4 linked regions of the Homo sapiens genome follow. The protein of the gene in region 1 purifies or fractionates together with the protein of each later gene. This does not show direct contact. Each region holds a gene or a part of one and is shown on either strand. Other genes may lie near its edges. The genes, in order: PTPN23, SH2D4A, CAD and CLINT1.

What was found.
Region 2: the proteins of PTPN23 (region 1) and SH2D4A purify together in Homo sapiens (co-immunoprecipitation; one large-scale study listed by IntAct). This does not show direct contact.
Region 3: the proteins of PTPN23 (region 1) and CAD purify together in Homo sapiens (affinity purification with mass spectrometry; one large-scale study listed by BioGRID and IntAct). This does not show direct contact.
Region 4: the proteins of PTPN23 (region 1) and CLINT1 purify together in Homo sapiens (affinity purification with mass spectrometry; one large-scale study listed by BioGRID and IntAct). This does not show direct contact.

Annotation. Positions count from the first base shown.
Region 1 is NC_000003.12:47,387,366-47,391,420, reverse strand, and holds part of PTPN23 (tyrosine-protein phosphatase non-receptor type 23), read right to left. Parts: intron 1-4,055. UniProt on the Homo sapiens protein: Plays a role in sorting of endocytic ubiquitinated cargos into multivesicular bodies (MVBs) via its interaction with the ESCRT-I complex (endosomal sorting complex required for transport I), and possibly also other ESCRT complexes.
Region 2 is NC_000008.11:19,316,254-19,320,308, reverse strand, and holds part of SH2D4A (SH2 domain-containing protein 4A), read right to left. Parts: intron 966-4,055; 5' UTR 762-965; coding exon 581-761; intron 1-580. UniProt on the Homo sapiens protein: Inhibits estrogen-induced cell proliferation by competing with PLCG for binding to ESR1, blocking the effect of estrogen on PLCG and repressing estrogen-induced proliferation. May play a role in T-cell development and function.
Region 3 is NC_000002.12:27,220,018-27,224,072, forward strand, and holds part of CAD (multifunctional protein CAD), read left to right. Parts: intron 1-1,200; coding exon 1,201-1,330; intron 1,331-2,176; coding exon 2,177-2,319; intron 2,320-2,501; coding exon 2,502-2,643; intron 2,644-2,848; coding exon 2,849-3,020; intron 3,021-3,545; coding exon 3,546-3,731; intron 3,732-3,899; coding exon 3,900-4,012; intron 4,013-4,055. UniProt on the Homo sapiens protein: Multifunctional protein that encodes the first 3 enzymatic activities of the de novo pyrimidine pathway: carbamoylphosphate synthetase (CPSase; EC 6.3.5.5), aspartate transcarbamylase (ATCase; EC 2.1.3.2) and dihydroorotase (DHOase; EC 3.5.2.3).
Region 4 is NC_000005.10:157,806,762-157,810,816, forward strand, and holds part of CLINT1 (clathrin interactor 1), read right to left. Parts: intron 3,045-4,055; coding exon 2,867-3,044; intron 1-2,866. UniProt on the Homo sapiens protein: Binds to membranes enriched in phosphatidylinositol 4,5-bisphosphate (PtdIns(4,5)P2). May have a role in transport via clathrin-coated vesicles from the trans-Golgi network to endosomes. Stimulates clathrin assembly.

The sequences.
Region 1 (4,055 bases):
AATGAGGAAACTGAGGCAAAGAGTTAGGGTATTCACCAAGGTCACGGTGCTAATAACTGATGGGGATATGACTGAAACCCAGGCATTTGGGCTCCAGAGCCCATGTTCTTTCCATATTAGACCATTCCATTTCTATTTAAATTGTTTTTAGTTTATTTTTTATTGTTTTATTTTATTTTCGAGACAAGGTCTTGTTCTGTTGCCCAGGCTGGAGTTACAGTGGTACTGCAACCATAGCTCACTGCAGTCTCAAACTCCTGGGTCCAAGTAATTCTCCTGCCTCAGCCTTCCAAGAAGCCGGAACTACAGGCACATACCACCATACTCAGCTAATTTTCTGTAGAGGTAGTGTCTTGCTATATTGCCCAGGCTGGTCTGGAACTTCTAGCCTCAAGCAATCCTTCTGCCTCAGACTCCCAAAGTGTTGGGATTACAGACATGAGCCATCACGCCCAAACTTTTTTTTATTTTATAGAGATGGGAGTCTCACTATGTTGCCCAGTCTGGTCTTAAACTCCTGGGCTCAAGCAGTTGACCCACATCAGCCTCCCAGAGCATTTCTATTTTTTAAAAATATGGTTCTTACAAACAACTCTGAAAAACAGGCACAGAAAATGAATCCCTGGCCACACAGTGAGTCAGTGGAGCAGCCAGGATATTTATGTTATTATTATTATTTGCAGCCTGTTAGAAGCAAAAGGATGTTTTTAAAACCCTAACAAAATCCTCTGTGACTGCTGATCACTCCTCCACTAAAAAAGAAGAAAGAGGCTGGGTGAAGTTCCTGGAGTAAGGGACAGAGACCTTGTCCCCATTTCGCTATGGTCTGGGACTCTGCAGAACTCGGAACAGTCTAGCGGGAAGTATGAAGCTCCAATGGAGGCTGAGAAGGCAGGCCCAGCAGCAGACGAGGAGAAAGAACCAGAGGCCCTGACAGGACCCCAGTACCTACACAACTAACAGGAAGAAGACCAGAGAACCTCCAAAAACAGCCAGGCTTTGAAGTAGCTGGGGATCCTTTTCTGAAGGAATAAAAGAAGACCCGTGGAGAGCTCTCAGTGAGGGCACGTCCAGGGATCACAGCCACCGAGGGGAAAAAGAAAAGAAAGGAGTTACCAGATTACAAGTGGGAAACAGTGCCCCTGAGTTGCTGTGAAATCTGGGCTTGGTTTTTGTTTTTTGTTTTTTTAAATTGTCTTGCTCTGTCAGGCAGGCTGGAGTGCAGTGGTACTATCATAGCTCAATGAAGCTTCAAACTCCAAGTGATCCTCCCACCTCAGCCTCTTGTGTGGCTAGGACTACAGCTGTGTGCCACCATGCCCAGCTATTTTTTTTTTTTTTTTTTTTTGAGACGGAGTCTCGCTCTGTTACCCAGGCTGGAGTGCAATGGCGCCATCTCGGCTTACTGCAACCTCCACCTCCTGGGTTCAAGCAATTCTCCTGCCTAAGCCTCCCAAGTAGCTGGGACTACAGGTGCATGCAGCCATACCCAGCTAATTTTTGTATTTTTAGTAGAGATGGGGTTTTGCCATGTTGGCTAGGCTGATCTCGAACTCCTTTTTTTTTTTTTTTTTTTTTTTGAGACGGAGTCTCGCTCTGTTACCCAGGCTGGAGTGCAGTGGTGCCATCTCAGCTCACTGCAAGCTCCACCCCCCCGGGTTCACGCCATTCTCCTGCCTCAGCCTCCTGAGCAGCTGGGACTACAGGCACCCGCCACCACGCCTGGCTAATTGTTTGTATTTTTAGTGGAGACGGGGATTCACCGTGTTAGCCAGGATGGTCTTGATCTCCTGATCTCGTGATCCACCCGCCTCGGCCTCCCAAAGTGCGGGGATTACAGGCGTGAGCCACTGCGCCAGGCCCTGGTCCCGAACCCTTGACTTCGTGATCCACCCGCCTTGGCCTCCCAAAGTGCTGGGATTACAGGCGTGAGCTACCATGCCTGGCCCCAGCTAATTTTTATTTTTATTTTGTAGAGACAGGGGTCTTGCTATGGTGCCCAGGCTGGTCTCGAACTCCTGGCCTCCAGCTATCCTCCCACCTCGGCATCCCAAAGCGCTGGGATTACAGGCATGAGTCACCATGCCCAGCCTAGGCTTGGCTTTTTTCATGTGTAAAATGGGGTTAATATCACTTGCTACGTCTAGCTCAGAGCTGTCATAAGGATTCGAGTTATTTCCCAAACAGGGAAGGAAGATGCTCAGGTGAAAATATTGTTTACAATAGGCCAAGACCTGTACTAAGAACTTAACAAGCATTAGAACGACAAACTCTGCATGTTCTCACTTTTTTGTGGGAGCTAAAAATTAAAACCACTGAATTCATGGAAACCGACAGTAGAATGATGAATACCAGAGGCTGGGAAGGGTAGTGGGAGTGGGGTGGGGGAGTGGAGTGGGAATGGTTAATGAGTACAAAAATATAGTTAGATAGAATGAATACAATCTAGTATTTGAGGCTGGGCGTGGTGGCTCACACCTGCAATCGCAGCACTTTGGGAGGCCAAGGCGGGTGGATCATCTGAGGTCAGGAGTTCGAGACCACCCTGTCCAACATGGCAAAACCCAGACTCTACTAAAAAGACAAAAATTAGCTGGACATGATGGCAGGTGCCTGTAATCCCAGCTACTCGGGAGGCTGAGGCAGTAGAAACGCTTGAACACGGGAGGCGGAGGTTGTGGTGAGCCGAGATTGTGCCACTGTACTCTAGCCTGCGTGACAAGGCGAAACTCTGTCTCAAAAAAAAAAAAAAAAAAGATCTAGTAGTGACAGCAAAACAGGGTAACTATAGTCAGCAATAATTTATTACATTTAAAAATAAAAGTATAATTGGATTGTCTGTAACACAAAGAAAGGATAAATGCTTGTGGTAATGGATACTCCATTTACCCTGATGTGATTACTATACCTGTTTGGCCATATCAAGTACCCCATTAATTTTTGTGGGTACATAGTAGGTGTATATACTTATATACCTACTTAAGCCCAGGTGTTTGAGACCAGCCTGCGCAACACAGTGAGACCTTATCTCTAAAAAAAAATAAGCAAAATTAGCAGAGTGGTGCGTGCCTGTGGTCCCAGCTATTCAGGAGGATGAGGTGGACGGACCACTTGAGACCTGGAGGCAGAGGCTGCAGTGTGCCAAGATCGTGCCTTTGCACTCCAGCCTGGGTGTTACAGCAAGACCCCATCTCTAAAAAAATAAAAATAAAAAAGAACTTAGAAGCATTAATTTTGATTCTCAGAAGCTTATGAGGTATATTATTAGTTCCATGTTTCAGGTAAGAAAAGTGAGGACTACATTAGTTATGTAATCTTTGTGACAGCTCAAGATCATTCAGCTATTAAAGGAATGAGAGGGGACCTAAACCAAGGTCTGATTCCAATAGCTATGCTATTTCCATGATGCTACTCTGCTATTTTACTGAGCACCAAACAGTAGAGAATTTTGTAGCTAGGTGAGATCACTGGAAACAACCATCCTGGTCCTGCCATGATTTTGCAGATTAGAGAAAGGGCAAACCACAGATAAGCAATGATAGTGCTAGGACCCCAAGACAGATTTCCTGACTCCAGACCTAATATTAATCCCTCTGTGTCACCTTCTCTTGTACTAGTATGTTCTCATTCTTCTATGTATGCTTTGCTCTTAATTTAACATTTGGAATTTCATCATGCTAATTAAAGCAATAAGACAAGAAGAAAAGGCAATTAAAAGGCATCACATGTGTTAGTTTTACCTTTATTCACCAGTTACATTATGTTTCTTTTTTCTCCAGTTCCAGAGTTGACTCAAATGTAGGGCATTCCTTGGGCTACTCTAAGAAACAAACTTTTTTTTTTTTTTTTTGAGACAGGGTCTCTGACACCCAGGCTGGAGTGGCGAGATCTTGGTTCACCACAGCCTCGACCTCCTGGGCTTAAGCCATACCCCCCACCTCAGCCTCCTGAGTAGCAGGGACTACAGGTGTGTGCCACCACACCACGCCTGACCTTTCTTTTTTTTTTTTTTTTTTTGTAGAGACAGGGTCTTGCTTTGTTGCCCAGGTTAGTCT
Region 2 (4,055 bases), on another chromosome or scaffold:
ATGGTCTCAAAAGAACCCTCTCAAACTACCAGAGATTCCTTTGATAACGAGGAAAAGTTTACATCTGAGAAACTCATTCACACTAAAAAAAGATAGTATTATGATTTTTTTCCTTATAGCAATTCCTTACATTTTAACAGGAGGTGTTCCCTAAAAAGATACCTCAAAGAAAAATCTCTGAGGTCTAAGAAATGCAAACACAATTGCTATAAATATACTGACACAAGAACTTTGTGTTCTAGTAGTAGCATATTAGGAACCAGTAACAATAAAGGAGATAGAAACCTTTCTTAATACCCCTCAAATCAAACCTCATAGGTGACTTTTTAATACAGCTTCAGGTTAGTCTGGTTTCAAGTAAAAGATTTCCTCATAGCTATGCAACTCCATGGTGAATGCTGTGTGTGTGTGTGTAGACTTCAGGTGGACATACTGCACTATTAGATTCTCAATAACATTTAGGATTCATCTGCCAAACTGGAACTTGCACCTGCTTTGCTTGTGACTAGTGTGAAATTGTCAAAGCAAGCCAGGAGCTGTTCTACCAACACATCCACAGAAGAAACGTGGATAAGTTTACCTTTCTTTGGTCTGGGTTTCACTGGCAGGGACTCCTTTCTTTCCATAGCTGCTTCTCTTTCTTTCCATCGTCGGATCTGTTCCTCTCTCATCTTGAAGAACAGGATCTGTTTCTGTTCTTCGCTGAGCTCTGCCAGTAGATCAGGATCTATGTACATCTCCGACAGTATCTGTTTCAGCATCTTTGCACTTCTGAAGTCTTTTATACTTGTGGCAAAAGTTCCTGAAACTGGCCTCCAGGTGTCCCTCCACCTGTGCTGGCACTTGGGCGTTTCCACGAAACTTCCCAAACAGCTCACAATCCTGGCTGACTGGGACAATAATTCAGCAAACTGGCTACTCAGACCTGGCACCAAATGTCCTGTCCAAAATGCTGTTCACTGAACCTGCAGAGAGAAAGAGCCCACATTCAGGCAGCGTGTTAAAATGTGTGGACACTGGCTAGGACGGGTTTAAAAAAAAAAGCTAGGAGGAAACACAGTATCACTTTTCAGTTCAGAGAGAAAAGAGAAGAAGAAAATCTGAGGCACACTTTGTTAAGAGTTTGTATAACCTCTATCCTGTAATTTCTAAAGATACTCTGTCAAAAAAAAAAAGAAAACAAACCCTAACTTTATACAGGTCAATCTCAGGCAAACAAAAAAAGTTCACAGAGGTTTGTCCAGCTCCCAACTAAGCAAACACATTATTACCCCAGAGCCTAACAAACCACCAACTGTGTGGCTGAAAAAAGAAAGAAAAAAAAAAGTCACAGGAAGAAATTAAAAGGCTCTCTGCAAAGTACCTATTTCAAAAGAAAATACCACTTTTGATATGTCACAGAGTAACTCATCCCAAACCAAACCAAAATAGAGCCATGCTCAAGGAAGAAAAAGGAAGAAATAAAAACTAGACCACCATGCATTTTCTGCAATTTCCCTAAAAAGTAGCATTAAATAAACAAAATTATGTACTTTCCTCTTCACAAAAGGATAATGTAATTTCCAGATAACCTACTAGAGCCATGAAAATCAGGGCAGGTGCAAGAGAGAACATCCATCTACATTCTGGAAGGTCACCGAGTTTTAGGTGTGCTTTTTCCAGATAACCTAGTTTAATAAAATCTAAATGGACAGACCAGATAAACTAGGGGGATGAAGAGGTCATTAGGTTCATAACAAAGGATCCTTCATTTATATGACTTTACCGCATGGCTCCTTGAAAGAGAAACCATAAAGCGAGAGTGCACAGTGGCCTCCTAGAAGTTCTCCTGTGGTTGGAAATCCTACTGAGGTTTCATTCTACTTTCCACATTTCTATTTTAAAATATTGGCTTAAAAATATTACCACACTGTCATACTTTCTCTCTCTATTTTTAAACAATTTCTAAGTCCCATAAACCATCATACTTTTGTAATCAGCAGGAAACTATGTAAATATATCTATTCTGGAAAACAAAAGACTTTGGATTCGATGTAATAAGATATAAGAAAAAAAACTTACTACAACTTTTCAGAATCACATGTGTCCTAAGAAATTGACCAATAGGCCAGGCGGGGTGGCTCACGCCTGTAATCCCAGCACTTTGGGAGGCCAAAGAGGGGGGATCACGAGGTCAGGAGTTCGAGACCAGTCTGACCAGTATGACCAACATCTCTACTAAAAAAACAAAAAATACAGAAATTAGCTGGGCATGGTGGTGGGTGCCTGTAATCCCAGCTACTCAAGAGGCTGAGACAGGAGATCGCTTGAACCTAGGACGCAGAGGTTGCAGTGAGCCGAGATCGCGCCACTACACTCCAGCCTGGGCAACAGAGGGAGACTCTGTCTCAAAAATAAAAAAAGAAAAAAAAAAGAAATTGACCAATAATTTGTTATTTATAATAACACCTCAATAATCTTACCACCTTGCCATGTGCTCTCAAATACGTTGTTTCTCCATACTATGTTCAAACAGTCTTAAACTTCAGACAAGTCACTTAGCTATATTATGACCATCGTAGTGTTGTTGGTTTCTCTTCGTTCACCTTGTCATTGATACAGTTAGATTTGTAATGCCCCTCTCACCATCTGGGGGCCTCCTTCAGCTTCCCGTCTTCCTCCTCTTCCGTGCAAAGTAGTTCCTTGATTTACACCTGTCTTTTGAGACAAGCACGCTCAACAGCTAGGCTACCACAGAGTGGTGTGCATACTCAGCTCTTAGATTCGCTGACTGTTCATTGTGAAGCCAGGCCCTTGATGAAACTACACCTATCCCTACTGACTGCAACCTATCATCTCGGCAGCATTCAACTACCAGAATCCAAATGGAACCAAACATTAAGAGAAAAATTTTAAAGGACTAAAAGTAATATCACGCCCTTCCCAGATCCACTTGCCAACTTTGTATTTTGCATTGAGATACCCTTAAAGGCTTGAACAGCCAAAAAAAAAAAAAAAAAAAAAAATGGATGTCTTGTCAAGATTTCTTGACTTTTGACTTTTTGTTTCTAGCAGCTTCTCAAAGGGTGGAGCCAATGAAATCCACAAGCTCCAAGATAAAGTGGTAAGAAAGGAGACAGAATGACTCCTTGACATTCCAGTAAATGTCCTTAAGTTCAATGGTTGGTTTTCGCAGAAATCACACACGGCAGAAGATGAACAGTTCAGCTGGGGTTGAGACTTCTGCTGTGTTCCCCATTTTGAATGCAGCGAATCCTATTCAAGGCATGGGTAGATCCTAGAATCTAAAACCCTTAAAGTGTCAAAGTCATATTCCTCCAGTCTCCCCCGCCCTGCATATTCCTGATAACACAGCTAACACTTCTTGTACCAGGCACCATCTTAATTAAGCACTCTACATGTGTTAACTCACTTAATCTTCACAATAACCCTTGGAGTCCAGCCCATCACTATGCCCATCTCACAGATTAGGAAGATAGAGCACAGGTCAGCAGCTGGTAAGCGGCAGAGCCGGGCAGTCCAGCTCTAACTCAGCTTCACTGTAATACACAACACAGAGGCCTTTTTGTGAGTTTATTTGTGTGCCCAGAATCAGAACAGCAGGATGTGGTGCCATGTATGAAATTTCAGAATGGAAGCCAGCAAATTCCTGCAGCAACAGAAACGCTGAACTGATGGTGCTTGACACAGGGCAGAAGCCTCCTCCTGGTCAACTGTAGCTAAGCTTAGGGGAGGCCAGGTGCACACACCCCAGCCAGGAAGGACAGCAAGGAACCGACTGTCACACTGACCCAGGTGTGGACATTGCTTACCCACGTATTCACCAGACACTTAGTCCCATTTCCCCTTGCACTTAGTCATCCACTTCGTCTCTACAATTTCCCCTTCCAAACAAACACTAAGAACAGCACAAAAAGCACAGCCTCTCACATGTGCAAGGAGGTTCATGGCACCTCTGTGATGAAATTCTCACATTATTTCCATTTTTATGTTGTTTTGTTTTACTTTTTATAGCAAACGTGGATTTCTAACATTAAAATTAACTAGTTCATCTT
Region 3 (4,055 bases), on another chromosome or scaffold:
TATAATTAATATTTATATGGGTGTTACCTTGTTTTCTAGCTCCCTAAGTCAGAAATAAACATCATGAAGACAGGAACCTCATCTTTTTTTGCTCATTGCTCTTTTCTCAGCATCTTTTGCAATGCCTGCACCTCAATAAATGTCTGACTGACACCATGTGCCTTGCTCTTGAGTTCTCTGTTTCGTGACAAAGACACAAATACATATTCATCATATGACGTAAATAGCAAGAGAGGAAATAAAGTATTAAAACAGCTCTAAGATGGAGGCACAAGCTGTATTGGGTGAGTGGGAGGGGCTTCACAGAGAAAGGATTTGTGATTTCAGTTTTAGATAAAGGAAGAAAGAGGCGGGGCGCGGTAGCTCATGACTTGTAATCCCAGCACTTTGGAAGGCTGAGGTGGGGGGATCGCTTGAGCCCAGGAAGTTTGAGAGCAGCCTGGCAACATGGTGAGACGCTGTCACTACAAAAAATTCAAAAAATTAGCCAGGTGTGATGATCCACACCTGTGGTCCCAACTACTCAGGAGTCTGAGGTGGGAGAATCACTTGAGCCCAGGAGATTGAGGCTGTAGTGAACCGTGTATTTGTGCCACTGTACTCTGCACTCCAGCCTGGATAACAGCAAGACCCTGTCTCAAAAAAAAAAAAAAGGAATGGCTAGGTGCGATGGCTCACTCCTGTAATCCCAGCACTTTGGGAGGCTGAGGTGGGCAGATCACAAGGTCAGGAGATCTGAGACCATCCTGGCTAACATGGTGAAACCCCGTCTCTACTAAAAATACAAAAAATTAGCCGGGTGTGGTGGCGGGCGCCTGTAGTCCCAGCTACTCGGGAGGCTAAAGCAAGAGAATTGCTTGAATCCGGGAGGCAGAGGTTGCAGTGAGCTTAGATGTCGCCACTGCATTGCAGCCTGGGTGACAGAGTGAGACTCTGTCTCAAAAAAAATAAATAATAAATAAATAAAAAGGAAAATGTCATTTTCAGTGATCATCGGGGCACCCTGGGCCTGTGGGTTGTGTTTCGTATAGGAGAGAGCGTTGTTGGTAAATGGAAATACCTATGCAAAAGCACCAAAAGTTTGGTATATTGAAGGCCATTCAATGTGGCTGAATATAGGGTCTGTGGCCACACAATCGGGAAAATGCTGCAAAGAAATAACTTGGCCTGAGGCTTCTCACAATCTCTTTCCATCTACAGTGGTTTGAATCCTCGGGCATCCACGTAGCAGCACTGGTAGTGGGAGAGTGCTGTCCTACTCCCAGCCACTGGAGTGCCACCCGCACCCTGCATGAGTGGCTGCAGCAGCATGGCATCCCTGGCTTGCAAGGTATGGTGGCAAGCAGGGGCATATTTGGGCAGAGCACAGCATGCCTGGATGGAAAGAATCAAGGTTTCTGTAATCTGCTGGGACCTGACTCTAAGATTGTGATAGTTGGAAGGTTTAGATTGGAGTTGGGCTGGGAGAAAGAATTGAACTATCACTCAGAAAGAAAATTTCCAACACAGGAAGGAACTCCCACCTTCCATAATCATCAGCTTAGGGCTAATCTTATTTCATCACCACCACTGGATTATTTTGATGCAAATCTCAGACATCATATCATTTCATCTACAAATAGTTCAATATCTATGCAAAAGGAATCTTTAAAAAACATGATCATAATAACGTCATACACTAAAAAAATTAATAATTCCCTAATACAAGTGTCCAGGCAATGTTTAAAATTTCCCAATTTTTTTTTTTTTTTTTTTTTTTTTTTCTGTTCATTTGAATCTTGCTCTAAACAGGGTTCACACATTGCATTTGGTTGATAAGTCTCTTAATCTGTGGACCTTGTAACCTATTTGAAAACAGGTCATTTTTCCTGTATCTAGTATCCCATAGTCTGCACTTACTTGGTTACACTCCTGTAGTGTTACTTAGCGTATTCTTTTTTTCCCTTTATATTATTTTCTATAAATGGATAGATTTAGAGTTGTTCAATTCAGATGTGATATTTTTGGCAGGAATACTTCATGGTAGTATACTTCTGTCACAATGGCCCAGGATTTTGATGCACATAGAACAGCTGTGTGTGACTGGGGCTCTGGAATGGAAGTGCTTCTGGAAGTCTAACCTCACAGATGACTGAGTTGTAGGAATGTGATCCCTAAGACTGTGCTATTTTGACAGGAGTAGACACTCGGGAGCTGACCAAGAAGTTGCGGGAACAGGGGTCTCTGCTGGGGAAGCTGGTCCAGAATGGAACAGAACCTTCATCCCTGCCATTCTTGGACCCCAATGCCCGCCCCCTGGTACCAGAGGTCTCCATTAAGGTACAGAGGTAGAGTGGGAGAGTGTTGCAAGCTCTAGCACAGTAGTTATATTCTGCCCACAATTGGGGGGTGAACACAGGAGAGAATCAAAGGAGGCTTTGAAGGTAGGAGTTGGTGCAGGCATATCTTATACCCACTGAGCACAGCTGCCAACTGTTGCCCTTTATTCGTCTATTTCTCAGACTCCACGGGTATTCAATACAGGGGGTGCCCCTCGGATCCTTGCTTTGGACTGTGGCCTCAAGTATAATCAGATCCGATGCCTCTGCCAGCGTGGGGCTGAGGTCACTGTGGTACCCTGGGACCATGCACTAGACAGCCAAGGTGAGTAGCTGGGGCCTGTTCAGGGCCTCAGACAAGCAGCTTGGGTGGAAGATCTATCCCTTGGTCCAATTGCTAAAAGTCAGTAGGAGTTGCAGTGAAGAAGATAGACATTGGGACTTAACACTCTCATGGGCTGGGGGGGCTGCAGGTGTGTCTCCTGTAATTGAAATACTGATTTTGATGTCATCTTTTCTGCCCACTCCAGAGTATGAGGGTCTCTTCTTAAGTAATGGGCCTGGTGACCCTGCCTCCTATCCCAGTGTCGTATCCACACTGAGCCGTGTTTTATCTGAGCCTAATCCCCGACCTGTCTTTGGGATCTGCCTGGGACACCAGCTATTGGCCTTAGCCATTGGGGCCAAGACTTACAAGATGAGGTGGGACTTGTGGGGAGCAGAAGGGGCCCATACTTGTGGCATGAGGGGTGGGGTGTCTCAGGAATGAGAAGAGAGTTGGTGTTTATTCGTGTTGAAATAGGAGCGGGGGGGTTGCAGGTGAGGTGGCTCCCACCTGTAATCCCAGCACTTTGGGAGGCCAAGGTGGGCGGATCACTGGAGGTCAGGAGTTCGAGACCAGCCTGGCCAACATGGTGAAACTCTGTCTCTACTAAAAATACAAAAGTTGGCCAGCCATGGTGGCGTGCGCCTGTAATCCCAGCTACTCCAGAGGCTGAGGCAGGAGAATCGCTTGAACCTGGGAGGTGGAGGTTGCAGTGAGCGGAGATCGTGCCATTGCCCTCCAGCCCGGGAAACAGAGGGAGACTCCGTCTCAAAAAAAAAAAAAAAACAAAAAGGAAACAGGAGTGAGGCTACTGAGAACAGGAGATCGGTGAGAGCTGGGGTAGGTTCAGTAGTGAAGAGAGGGTGAGCAGGGCCTGTGACTCGGCATGCTTCTACCTCCAGATATGGGAACCGAGGCCATAACCAGCCCTGCTTGTTGGTGGGCTCTGGGCGCTGCTTTCTGACATCCCAGAACCATGGGTTTGCTGTGGAGACAGACTCACTGCCAGCAGACTGGGCTCCTCTCTTCACCAACGCCAATGATGGTTCCAATGAAGGCATTGTGCACAACAGCTTGCCTTTCTTCAGGTGAGCCTGGTTGACTGGGTCTGTGAAAATTTGAAGCCCTGTGGGCCTTGATGATGGAAAAGTAAAGCACGGCAGTGGATCCGAGTCCCCTGTCCCACTACCCACCTCGAGGCTGCCAGTGTCATGCCAGGGACCATGATGGTTTTCATGATGCAATCTCTTCAATAGTGTCCAGTTTCACCCAGAGCACCAAGCTGGCCCTTCAGATATGGAACTGCTTTTCGATATCTTTCTGGAAACTGTGAAAGAGGCCACAGCTGGGAACCCTGGGGGCCAGACAGGTAAGATCCTGAGTAGAACTGGGTTGTGGACCTAAGAACAGGG
Region 4 (4,055 bases), on another chromosome or scaffold:
AACAACTGTATTTAAAATATTTTAAAGATAATTCTCCTTCAGCCACATTCAACAATTTTTTCTTTCCTTTTTCTTTAATAGTGAAAAAGATTTTAAAAACTAAACAGTAAAAGCCTGGGTTTTTCATATGCTAGGAATGAAAATATCAGCCCTAGTCTGTTCTCTAGTAACAAGTCATTGGGTTTTTTTCTGATGTAAGTAGGAGAGAGAGAGAGAGAGAGAGAGAGAGCGAAAGAGAGAGAAAGAGAGAAATGTTACTTGAAACATGTTCCATTACCTGTATTACTTAATTTTAGAGTAGGTGGTTTAATTTATAAATATTCTGGAATATAATGTTTAAAATTCTCCTTTAAACTGCTGATGCAATTTACCTCAGACTGAACTATAGCAACTTGTACTTAAATATAAACCAATCTGGAACTTGTATAAATCAAAGATCAAAAAGAATGACTTCCCACACAGAGCAAAGGGGTTAAATATATTTTTATATATAAACATTTTAAGGAACCTACAAGTTCTGATACGCATTCAAAAGCCCTTACTAACTTCTCAACAACAAATGACCTGAAGATTCCCATTAGTCCTACAAGTAAAACTGAAATTTCTTACTTTTTTGGTGTCCAATTTTATTTCAGCGCAAAATAATTTATTCACAAGTTGAAAATATAAATCTGACTAGCACACGATGAAATGGAAGCTCCATATCTGATCAATGTTCAAGAATTCCTGAATGTAATAGTGAACTAATAAGTATGAAATTCAGGTAACATGCCATCAGGATTGAGGTCATATGCAACTCTGTCAAAAAATCTACTCTTCTCTCACAAATACTTTAAGATAAAAAGTTCCTGGTGTGCCCTATCATTATCACGATAAATCATGTTCACTGCATTTTCACTCTTTTAAACCTAAATACTCCTTAAAGATTTAGAAACTCTAGGAGATCCTGTCTTAGAGGCAACATAAAAAATAAAAATCATGGGAGAAACAGAAATAAAAGAAGAGTAGAGAGACAAAGAAAAGAAAAACTAAGGATAGAAGGGCAAAGGAGAGAAAGTAACAATACAGAACACACACAGATATCTAACCAGCCTACATAGCGTTATTGTTTATAAGTAAAACCTAAGACCCAACCAGACTGTGTGGATCTGCCTAAAGTAACACAGTTAGTGGTGGAACTGAGCCTGCCCTGAAATGTCTCTTTTTCAAGACTGTTTGAAAAACTGGAATGTGATCTTTGAAGAGCTAGAACTTATTTTTAGCACTTTGAATAAATCTATTTTACAAGTATATATCTAGCTTTTTTATACTGAAAAAGGATGCATATGATAATTATAAATACTAAACATTGGGAGGGAAATGGTGCCCACTTCAAATATACAGAGCTGTTTCCCTCATTAATGTTTTTGTGGCCTGTGTAAGTTTTGGCTTGGTTTGGAAAACATTATTGAAATTATGGCCATTATTCTGTTGGTATTTCCTGAACAGGCATTCCAGGGATTTAAAAGATATGAAAACATCCTAAAAATACACTAATTAGATTGTATTTTTGTTTGGACCTCTTTTTAATGATCCCTAATTCTGAACTATTAGGATTTTTGGCGCAGGGTAAAGAAAAAGAGATGGCATTTAGTTACGAGAACTCACTTGAAGGCTTGGTTCCATCACTAACTGTGTTATTTAGGCAAGTCCACACAGTGTGACTGGGTTTTAGGTTTTACTTATAAACAACAAAGACAAAATTCTTATTCTACTCTAGTAGAGATATTGTGAGGCACAAATGATAAAGGTCAAATTTAAAAAGTAAAATTTGCTCTGTAAATTAAGTGCTATATGCATTACCCTTTACATTCTCAGAAAAATTGGTTTATAATAATATTGGTAAGTAAGAACAAAAGTGACTGCTGCAAAGCTCAAAGTATTGTTCCATGTAAAACTAAATACCATCAGAAAATGTAGTTTATAAAAATACAGCTCTATTCTCAAAAACTGGTTCAAAATCCATTTGGATTGTTTTTCTGGTACACACTGGCACAGAATCATAATGAAATGTCAAGGAAGCATTAAATTTCAAATCCTTTGACTTATGTTTAATTAAACTTAATATATAAACTTCATTATCCCTCAGTATCTTAGGTCCCTGGATCATCTAAGGTCCAAATGCAAAATAATCTATACAAGTTTTTACTGGGGAAAAAAATCCAAGGAAAGACTACTAGCTTGAATAAAAATACACAGGATCAACTTCAAAAATAAGTAGACAGAGGCAACATGGAAAGTATGTCAATACTAATTGCAAGTAGTGTATAACCTAGTATCTTAAAAATAGTTGCACAGTGCTTGCTTCAGCAGCATATGTACTAAAACCAGAACAATACAGGGAAGATTAGCATGCCCCCTGTGCAAGGATAACTTGCACATTTAAGACTTGTTCCACATTTCTGCACAGGGCATATTTATGGCAGTGAAACTATTCTATACAATACAGTAATGAGGAATATTATGCATTTGTCGAAACCCATAGAAGTGTACAATATAGGAAACCCCAACGTAAACTACAGACTTTAGTTAATAAGTGTATCCATACTGGCTTTTCAATTGTTAACAAATGCACCATAGTAATGCAAGATGTTCACAGAACCTGTTATGAAGGGGAAGTGGGTATATGACAACTCTGTACTTTATGCACAATTTTTCTGTGAGCTTAAATTGCTCTAAAAACAAATGAAGTCTATTAAAAAAAAAAAAAAAGGCCCAATTTCAGATAATGTTAATACCCCAAACAAAACCAACAAAAAACCAAAAACCCAGTGGCATAAATTTAGGGCTCTTTCTAAGAGACCCGGGAGACAAAGTGGTAAAATACCTGCATCTTTCTGGAGAGTCTTCTCTATCTTTCCTCCGGAACTTGCTGATGGTGTCATCAATTGTGCTTCCAATTTTATCACTCAGCTCACCTAATTTATCACTGAATGGAAAAGCACTCTTGTTTTTATCCCACTCCTCATCCCATTTTGATTTGGGCTCAGGATCATATCTTTCACCTAGATAGAGCATTAAAAAAAGAAGCAATTCTAACGACATTAAATTCAAAAGGTATCTACAAGTCCTTATTTCTCAGGCTTTTCCTCATAATAAAATCATTTTCAAAGGAAAACAGAAAGCTCCCACAGTGCTGAATCAACACAATTACAGCAAGGCATAGCATGTAATGCCAGTCATTAAGTGGCAGGAATGCAGATTCAAAAGCTTTTGTTTATGAATACTTACACAACCTTAATGCACAGCACAGCATATCAGGAAATTCTTAAAGGCTACTGAAAGGAGTAGTGGAAAACACAAAACCAACACAAGCTATATAAGCAAAAGAGAAATGAAAATCTTTCTGTTTTCACAAAAGACACTTAATATGTTATATTTTATTCCTGTCCCTTAATGGTTTCCCAATTTTCAGAAAAGCATTGGATAGCAACAGTATCTTAAAAAATACAACTGAAGGAACTCCAATCTGAATGCTACATGTCCCAATAAGCTAAAAAGTCTCAATAACTGTCACGCCTCAGTATCAAACTAAAAAAATAATTCAATGAATTTTCAGGGGATGGGAAAGCATTCCGTAATTACTGTACAAAGAAAGGATTACTCTAACTACCAAAAACTACACATACTAGAATCAGGAAGTATGCTCAAACAGTAGTTCAGAACAGTGTCAACCAATTCAAACACCCATTCCAAACATATGCTGAGACTGGCGAAACCTAGAGCCTCTGTGTGAATTTGGGAATGCAGAGAATAGATCGTGGCAGTAAACAAAAAACCCAAAATGTCAAGATTTGTTTTAGTCCTTGCCCCTAGGGACCCAAAGGAGACATAGGAATTACAGACACAAAATGAAACCCTTCCATTTCCATGTCCAAATCCAACTTAAGAAGCAACAGTAGAAGGTACAGAGAGCACGTGAGGTATTTTTAAAAAAGAAAACATTAAAAATTAAGGCAGGTTGGAAGAAAATGAAAAGGACAATGAGAAACAACAAAATAACTAAAAAGTGGCTA